Regions from separate parts of the Homo sapiens genome. Here region 2 is linked to region 1. Evidence: fine-mapped expression QTL. A gene starts in region 1. The other region holds a variant in brackets. All regions are shown on one strand. Distances are from middle to middle. Region 1 holds the start of TFB1M (transcription factor B1, mitochondrial). Region 2 holds the start of CLDN20 (claudin 20).

Region 1 (4,399 bases):
TGTTTCCAAGCTACTGAAAACAGATGCAGGCAGACTTAATATGTAGCTTCCATATTCTTCCAAAAGAAAGACAAGCGACAATGGAAAAAAAATTGAACAAAGATTTGGTAATAGTTTGACTCCAGAAAACTAATGAGAACATTCAGTCATTACATGGCACACTGGATCACTGGTAGGCTGAAACTTAAAAAAAAAAAAAAAAGAAAACCTGCCAGTTAGCACTAAGTGTCGTGATTTAACAGTGTTCATCCTTGTCAATTAATAAGACCATTTGTATTGGTTTTGTATATATTTATTGCAATTGTTTTAAATAGTCATATGAAAACTGTAAGCTTATGTTTACACCTAGATTCGTATTTCTATATATTTAGATGTTACAAAATTAACACATATTAACTTAAAAATAATAAGCTGATACTTGAGTGTGGCCAGTGAGATCAGAACTCAGAAAAAACACAACTCAGGTTGTCTTCTCTCTGTACTTTGCTGTCTGACTCTGGGCATTGTCAAATGACCTCACCTCCCCTATTTCTTCACAGCAAACTAAGAATAATAATCTCATTCACATGGGACCATTGTGAGGAGTACGGGAAATAATGAATATAACTGTGAAATAATGCTTTGTCAGGTATACTGTGTTTTGGACGATAAGATATCTGAATCAAGAGTTTGTACTTCCAGTCTACATTTTGATGCCACGTTGGGCAAATCTCCTTACCTCTATGGTAGTCATCACTATTTTTTAAAGCTAGGAGATTATCTCAGTTCCTTTTAAAACAGCTTTTATAGAAGGTGGTTGAGTTTTCCACTGGAATTTCAAAGTACTCCTCATTTTTATATCCATACCCATAGTTGTTTCGTTTTCCATTAGCTTTTTTAAAAACTTACTAATTGAGGAACAGAAACTTTAAAATTCATTTGTGATCAACGCAGCAATGTCCAAACATAAGCAGGGTTAAAACAGCAAAATTCTCCCACCTATCAGAGAAACTTTAATTTTTTTTTTTTTTTGCTTCGTTGTTTTTATCTCGTATAACGGAAAGACAGAACTCATATTTCAGTCTTCTCTCTGTTCTTAGCTGTAATCCTAGCAAATCGAATGACCTCTTTACACTGGCCAATTATTCATCTGCCAAATAATAACAGCCACCACTGATCACGTGGGAGCTTACCCAATGCCATGCGTGCACTATGTTCTGAACGTGCACACCAGGCGATCTCTCTCATTTAGTGCTCACAATTTTGAGGTAGACATTAGCTCCATTTAACTGATGAAAAAACTGAGGCTGAACGAAGTTAAAAACCCATCATGCAGCATCTGCAGAGCGGCGGTTCTAAAAACGCCTCACAGTAAGAAAGAATTGCTAACAAACAGTAGCTTTGCCTCTAAGCACCCGCTTTTCCTCTAATATTCACAGACAGGTATTTAGAACGTTAAAGAGCCGGAAGCCCTTGGGAACTTCAGGGCGGGAGTAAACCGGCTGCACCTCTCAGAGCAACTCCTCCGAAAAACCCCACCCTGTCCAGGCCCCGCCTCGTCCCGCCCTCCTGGGCGCTCTCCCCATAGCCCGCCCAGGAGAAGCCTAGTCCACCCGGCTCTCCCCCGGCTCTCACAGGCGGAAGCCGCCGACCACCCAGCCTGCCCTTCTCGCGGCAGGACTTAGCGCATGCGCTCTCAGCACGCCGGGAATTTCCTGTCCGCGGTCATCGCTTCCGGTGGGATAGGTCTGACCAATGGGGCTGACTCCGAGGCGGGCCTTAGGTCTCGCAGGTTCCTCCCCTGCGCGTTTCTTTCGGAGCGGCGGTGAAGGTCCTGGGTGAGGTAGGGTTGGATGGTGCTTGCCGCGTATCATGGCTGCCTCCGGAAAACTCAGCACTTGCCGTCTCCCTCCGTTGCCCACGATTCGAGAAATCATTAAGTTGTTAAGACTGCAAGCAGCGAAGCAGCTATCACAGAATTTCCTCCTGGACTTGAGGCTGACAGGTGGATGGCTTAGCAGTGCTCCCCGGATGTCTCCCCAGTGTCCGTGGGGGCGTGGGCCGGGGGGTCTTGCACGTCCCCGCGGGCGGGTGTCCAGGCACTGGCGTGCGACGGGCTTTTGGTCAGGTCCTTCGACCTCTTTGTATCAGAACTCCGGTCCCACCGCCCAGGAGACACGTGAAGTGCGTTGATTGCTCACAAAACTCCGCGTTCGGGGGGGTGTAGCCTGCCGGCAGGCTGCATAAATGCCAAGCTCCCTAGGGGAGGAAGGGTTCATGGGTCGTGAAAGGCGCTAGTGAATATTGGAATCTGGGTCACTGTGAAATCAATCATTCTGAAATAGTACAGCACATGCTGACTGCAGTTGCTTTACATGCAGTTTAAAGTTACCAGAATTTAAATTGATGCGAGGATTTTATCAATAACTTGGTGAAAAGAGTATCCCTCGTATGATTCGTTTTTTAAACGTTTACCTGTTCAGTCTAAGCCTCGGGGGCGCTAATATTCATTCATAAGTACATATTACACAAGCAACATTGTGCTAGTGCCGGGGGTAGGATATGGGCGTGAACAAGGCGGTGTTTCCTCGAGGAGCTTACTTTTAGCAAGTTTACATTCCCACACCTAATTGTTTAAAGTTACTTTTTATGAGATATAATTTATGTGCAATAAAATTAATAAGTTTGAAGTGCTCAATTTGATGAGTTTTGACGAATGTATTTATATATTGGTTTAACCACCATCACCATTGCTTAGTGATGTTCTATGAGATGAGGTTGCAAAAATATATTACAAATACGTCTACTAAGTCACGGCTGGAGTACTTAGGTTTTGAGATTTTCATATTTCATTCTATTTAGTCCCACTTCAGAAGTTGAAAAGAGCAGTAAATCACACCCAAAAAGTTCATTTTCACTTAAATGAAGCACACTCCAGAAAACATAAAATGTTTTATTTCTTGGACATGTAGTCTTTATTCTGCCTGTACCAATATGACTTTGGATAAAATAATTTAACTCAAGTTTTCTCTTTTTTTTTTTTTTCTTTTTTTAAGATGGAGTTTCACTCTTGTTGCCCAAGCTGGAGTGCAATGGCATGATCTCAGCTCACTGCAACCTCCGCCTCCCCGGTTCAAGTGATTCTCGTGCCTCAGCCTCCCAGGTAGCTAGGATTACAGGCGTGAGCCACCGTGCCTAGCTAATTTTGTGTTTTTAGTAAAGACAGGGTTTCACTATGTTGCTCAGGCTGGTCTCAAACTCCTGATCTCAAGTGATCCACTCGCCTCGGCCTTCCAAAGTGTTGGGATTACAGGTGTGAGCCACCATGTCCAGTAGTTTCCTCATCTTTTAATTGGAAGAAGGGCCTACTACTTTAAAAGATTGCCCACTCTAAAATTCTTTGGTTCTAGTAATAGCTAGTACCAGCCTTTTCTGCTTGTTATTAGCCACATTCTAAATATAAATCACCATTCTCAGGGCAGAAGTTATAGGTCTGTGTATTTTTTAAAATCCTTCAAATACATTTTCTCATGAGCCTTTATCTTCAGGAGTAAGTTTCAAATTCTAGATATTATCCACTCTTTCTATGGGAACCAGAGTTAACGGAGATGAGGGTACTTAGCTGAGGTTAGAAGCTCAGGCAGAAGAGAGCAAGATTGAAATCCAAGCTCATTGATTTGATAGCGCTTCTTTAATATTCATTTGTATTTCAATGTGCCTGAAAAGTTTGAGAGCAGAGACCTGCCTACTGTTGTAGCTCTCCATTTTAAAGAAGGAGAGTATTAAATTTATTCCATAATGTATCATTCCTGTTCCCTCTGAGAGGCATTGGCTTTAGGATTTATACCTATGTTGAAGTCCATGACCTTGTACAAATAAAACAATAGACAAGGAAACTGAAAAGTTAAGAGAAATGAAATTGGGATAGGAGTCCTTGGTTAACATGTAAGGATTAGGTGAGAATGTGTGTAAATCCATCATAATAGATAAGATGGTCAGTGGATGCTAATTCCCTCCCTGTTAAAAGACTAAACCATTTTTGGATGGCTGAGAAACTAGTTTCCGCATTTTAGCTGACAAAGTTATGTTGTTGAAAACAAGCAAAAATAGGACTGTGAACACCTACAAGAAGTGCTGGTATGTTTTTAGTGACTAAATTTCCACTATCCTAGGAAGACCAGTTCCTTGGATTTCCATATCTCAGAATCACTAAGACCAGCCCATTGCATGTTTTTCCAGATGTGATGACTGGTTGCACAGAGTCAGTACTCTACCTTTTTATGATGTCTTAAGGGCTGCTAACTTGAATTTGATTAATTAAAAAATTAATTTTTCTGTATTAACATGCATGTGTGCAAAGCTTTAAAAACCCTCAACTGCTCAATTTAACTTTTTCCTGAAAATGACTAAGAATTCAAAT
Region 2 (4,343 bases), 52 kb after region 1:
ATCACAGGTAGAGTGAACCAATTCCAGAAAATGTGATCTACATTCACATTTGTCAGTATTTTCTTTTTCTATGACATGCATAATTATCATATCACAGGCATCAGTGACTTGCTGCCTCTACCTGGGATTCTCCTTACCTGGGAAAGTTGTAACCTCGAGGCCCGTGATGTCCTAAAGTGGACTGTCATTAGCTTGGTGGAGGTACTTGAAGAGCAAGCAGACACTGGAGGGTGGGGAAACCAAGCATCCGGAGGCACTCATCTTGCTCCGTTGTTTTACCCGACAGTGAAGTGGCTCTCCCAAGCCCCTGTCCTCCTGCGTTCCATTTTGTGGTGCCTATAGCCTGCAAGATGCCATATGCTTCCTGTTCCCAACCACCCAGGTCTGCCCGTGATCATCCCACTTCGAACTTTGAATCCTTCTTATATGTTGTTCTTTAAAGTCTTACTGATTATTCCCTGTGGTCTTTTTTTTTTTTTTCACTAGCCCTTCTGTTGTCTTAAGTTATGGCTGTGTCTTGGCTATTTACATAGTAACTTCCTCATCATTTTTTCATCTCCACTATCTTGTCCTCTAATGGTCTTGAACACCGTGAGAGTGTTGAATGAAGACCCTTTTGTAGACAGTGGCCAGCATTGTTTCTGTGTCTGTGCATGTGGTCGTGACTTAGCTTTTGGGCATATGATAATCATCAGGAACTGAGTTGTACGTCTCTTCAGTGTCCTCTGTATATCATGTTGATTACAGTTCTCAGTTGTAATATCTAATATCTAAGATTTAAGATTTAATATCTCCTTAGCCCGGGTCCCTTGTGAGTTCCAAGTGCTGCTCTGAGCTGATAACCAGTCACGTCCTAGACACCCTGGCCTGGAAACTAGGACATCTGCCTCGGGCCTGTTATGGCCAAGGCTGCTAACACTGAGAAACAGTCTTAGCTTGTTACAGCGTTGACGTATAGGGTTAGAAAGGCAAATATTTAAATTCATTTTAAATCCTTTCATTTGAAATTTTAGTAGGTCATTTTGGTATACTGATGGACTGAGTTTGGAAAAGGCTGGCGGCATTAAACTAGAATATTTTAAGTACTTCTGATGCCTTTGTACTGATTTCTTTTTTGTAATCAAACCCATTAATAGACTTAAAACTCAAGGAAGAAAAAATAATACTTGTAATTTTAAATAAGCATTCAATTATAAGTAAAAAACATTTTTGTATTCGTTACCATAGTTACCAAGCAGCTTTCCTATAGTTCTAGAAAAAAATGGGCTCCATCATTCAGAGTAATTCTGAAAGGTGCCTTTGGGGGAAAGGGAGAGGAAGGGGTGGTACAGGAGAGGTCCTGGCCGTCCCAGAAGCAGGAGACATAACTGGAAGAGCTTTGTTGACGCTGAGTTTTACAGAATCTCCCACTAAATAGTAACTGCATTTGTGAGGGGAATTCTCTTTTAGCCGTGACATAATATAAGCCAACTTAACAGAGTATTGGAATTGTATTCAAACTTTAGAAGTCGACGCTATAGTTTACATGGGGTACTACTATATTTGTTCAGGGTTTTAAAACTTTATTTAAATCAAGCAAAAGTTAGACACTTCCTGTATTTGCAAATACCAACTATATCTCAAAGGAATGAAATCAGGCAAATAAAGATGAGGCCAAAATTTAAAATCTAAGGAAGCTGAAAGTGGCAGTTTCTGTACTGGAAGAGAGTGCATCTATCTCTGTATTTGTGCTTTTGGTCTTAATAGTTTGTAAGCCTTATGTAGAGTTTTGATAATATTTCATGGTTTTAGGCCTAGGCAGGGATTAGATTTTATCTCAGATTTTGCTAAGAGTATTTCTTCTGGAGACTAGCAGGCTGCTAGTAAGAATTGATAGAATTGGCTCTTTGTCACTGGGAGAACTGGAGTTGAAGGGTTACAGGAGATGAGTCCTGGAGAACGGGAGGCAGGGACAAGGGTGCCAGGAAGCTCAGGGGATGAAAGGGAAATGGAGAGTCCAGTGAGAGAAGGCTGGCGAGGTGTAGAGAGTGGCCAGACACATGCCTGACAGTTGGGACCACTTCTCTATACAAATCAGGAGGAGGCGAGGTAGGCAGGATAGTTCAGAGTTTGTGGGAAGGAACCTGACATCTGAAGTCAGTGGAGTGTGTCTTGGGCTGCTGCCTGCACTCTGCCATTCATAGATCAGGTCTTCTTTTTCCTTCCCCAGAACTGCCCTGAGCTGAAACCACCTTTCTTCTCTCCCTATAGCAGTACATCTACCCCACCTACACCCTGCATCCACTCCACAGCCCCTTGTCTTCTTCAGTCCCTCTTTCCCTGATGACCACAGACCTCTCCAAGCTGGGCACTGTTCTATGGTGCGTTTTGTTAAAGTCTAAGGGAAGTCCTGTAGGAAGAGGTAGTTGTTACTAAACTTGAGGAAACATGAAACAACATATAGCACACAATTCAAAAAACTTACTAAAATTTATTAAGAGCATTTGACATCTTAGTTAAGTCACTGTTCATAACTACTGTTCCACCATAGAATCTTCACAAGAACAGCCTGCTGGACTTCACAAGAAGGCTGATGGATGTTGGGGGTGGGCATTTGGGGTGTGGAAAGGCCGCTTGGCACATTCTCAGCATGCGCCAGCCCACACCGCCCCTTACCACCAAAGCCTTCTATTTCCCATTCCATCCAGTAGGAGCAGCTGTAGCTGACCTGAAACCTTCGGGGACAGGCTCATTGATTGTTTAAATAGGGAGGTGCAAGCTCTCAGGGGTCCGGGGCCTTGATGACACAGCTCAGGCACCACAGGCACCTCCCAC[A/C]AGCGCGTCAGGCTGTGTGAGGCTGAGCACAGCTTATTTTCACTTTCTTGTCCATAAAGTCTCACATCATATTCAGTTGTTTTCCTTCTACCCTAAAAGAAACACAACCAGAAAAGCCAGTCTCCCATTTTCATCTGTTTAAGGAATTATGTAGCCACAAGGATCTTTAGAAGCAAGTCCTCTTAGGAGAAAATGACAACCTCTATGGGATTTCAACAATGGAGTTCCTTTTGAAAAGCAGTGGTGCAGCCCACACCTCCTAAATTGCCGTACTTTCTTCGCCTTTTGTTGAGTCTGTATGAGATCCTCATTAACAAGTTTAACAATTCCTGGAGACTGAGGCTTTTGTCAATTATGACGAGACTTCCCATTTCCTAGACCATGGTCTCCGTTAGCATTTTTGTGTGTGTAGTTACTGTTTTGAATCCATTTCCCTCTGTCTTTAAATGTTTTTCCTTTGGTATTTGAATTTGTCCTTGTGAATCACCATGAGTCCATTTTTGGAACAAATCAGGGTATAAATCTCTTATAAGATATGCCTGAAAAGTTTTATCTTCTGACAATTAAAGAATCTCCACAGCTGGCAGTAGCTTAAACACTATCAAACAGTGACATTTTTTGATGGTTTCCATTTTCAATTTCAGTCCTGCCTATGCCTTTCGGGGCATTTAAAATTGCTACTAGAAAGTTCTGTGGCTTTTCAGACTACACTCATGAATTCAGTCCAGCTGATTAATCAGTGTCTACCGAAAATAAGTGGTGTCTCTATCTGGGAAGTTTAGCACTGAGTGGTCCCTGGGGGCCTGTCTGCCATCTCTCTGTGTCTTGAAGCTGCTGCTGCGGCTTATTTTTTTCCTCATTCAAAAACTAAAATATTCTAATGCCATCTATTATCTGCTGACTGACTTTAATGATTTGGATTGATTTTTAAGCCATTGTGAAACTGTGTTTTAAAATTAAGTGACCATCAAGCACAGGTCTGGTGGATGTCATTAGAGAACAGGTGCAGCCGGCTGATTTCTCCATGTCATTTGCGAATCCAGAATGTACCATCTTCCATGCCTAGAGATGAAACCGAAGTACGTGGAAAGGTCTGTTTATGAAAACAGGCTGTTGACAGCCCATCCTCCTGTTTTACAAGGATGAGTTGATTGATCACACTATGCCACATATCATGCCACAGAATGATAATATGTTTGCTTACAACGAAGGTGGACGTGGGCGTGGTGCACTTCACTCCCTTGATACAGCCCAAGATAGAGCAGCCATTCAAGCTGGTGGAAAAAGTGGTTCAGAATGTATTTCAGTTCCGAAGGAAATACTGCCATCGAGGGCTCAGGTAAGAATGCCTTTTCTTCTCTTCAGTTGCAGTCTTTATAAAATCCTCAGGCACTTTTTAAGAGTGAGAACCTTGTTTGCTCTATTCTTAAAGCTCTGAGTATTACACTTAGTTCAGGCCTGTGACGGACAAGACTTCACTGCCAATGAGGAGAGAGCAAAGACTTGCTAGACCTCAGGTGGCCTCTCTC

The links. PIP is the estimated chance that this variant, and not a neighbour inherited with it, causes the effect. A credible set is the group of variants that fine-mapping cannot tell apart.
Region 2: its variant is the best candidate, but not a certain one, in a credible set for the expression of TFB1M in whole blood (TOPMed, PIP 0.57).

Annotation. Positions count from the first base shown.
Region 1 is chr6:155,311,881-155,316,279 of GRCh38, reverse strand. TFB1M (transcription factor B1, mitochondrial) reads left to right here and starts at 1,796. Exons shown (of 7, transcript NM_016020.4): 1 at 1,796-1,984. The coding sequence starts at 1,852. RefSeq lists enhancers at 982-1,031, 1,582-1,631, 713-1,703, 1,702-2,021 and a silencer at 1,452-1,531.
Region 2 is chr6:155,260,083-155,264,425 of GRCh38, reverse strand. TFB1M (transcription factor B1, mitochondrial) reads left to right here. Exons shown (of 7, transcript NM_016020.4): 6 at 4,026-4,153. CLDN20 (claudin 20) reads right to left here and starts at 413. Exons shown (of 2, transcript NM_001001346.3): 1 at 138-413. The variant A/C (reference allele first, on the strand shown) is at 2,815.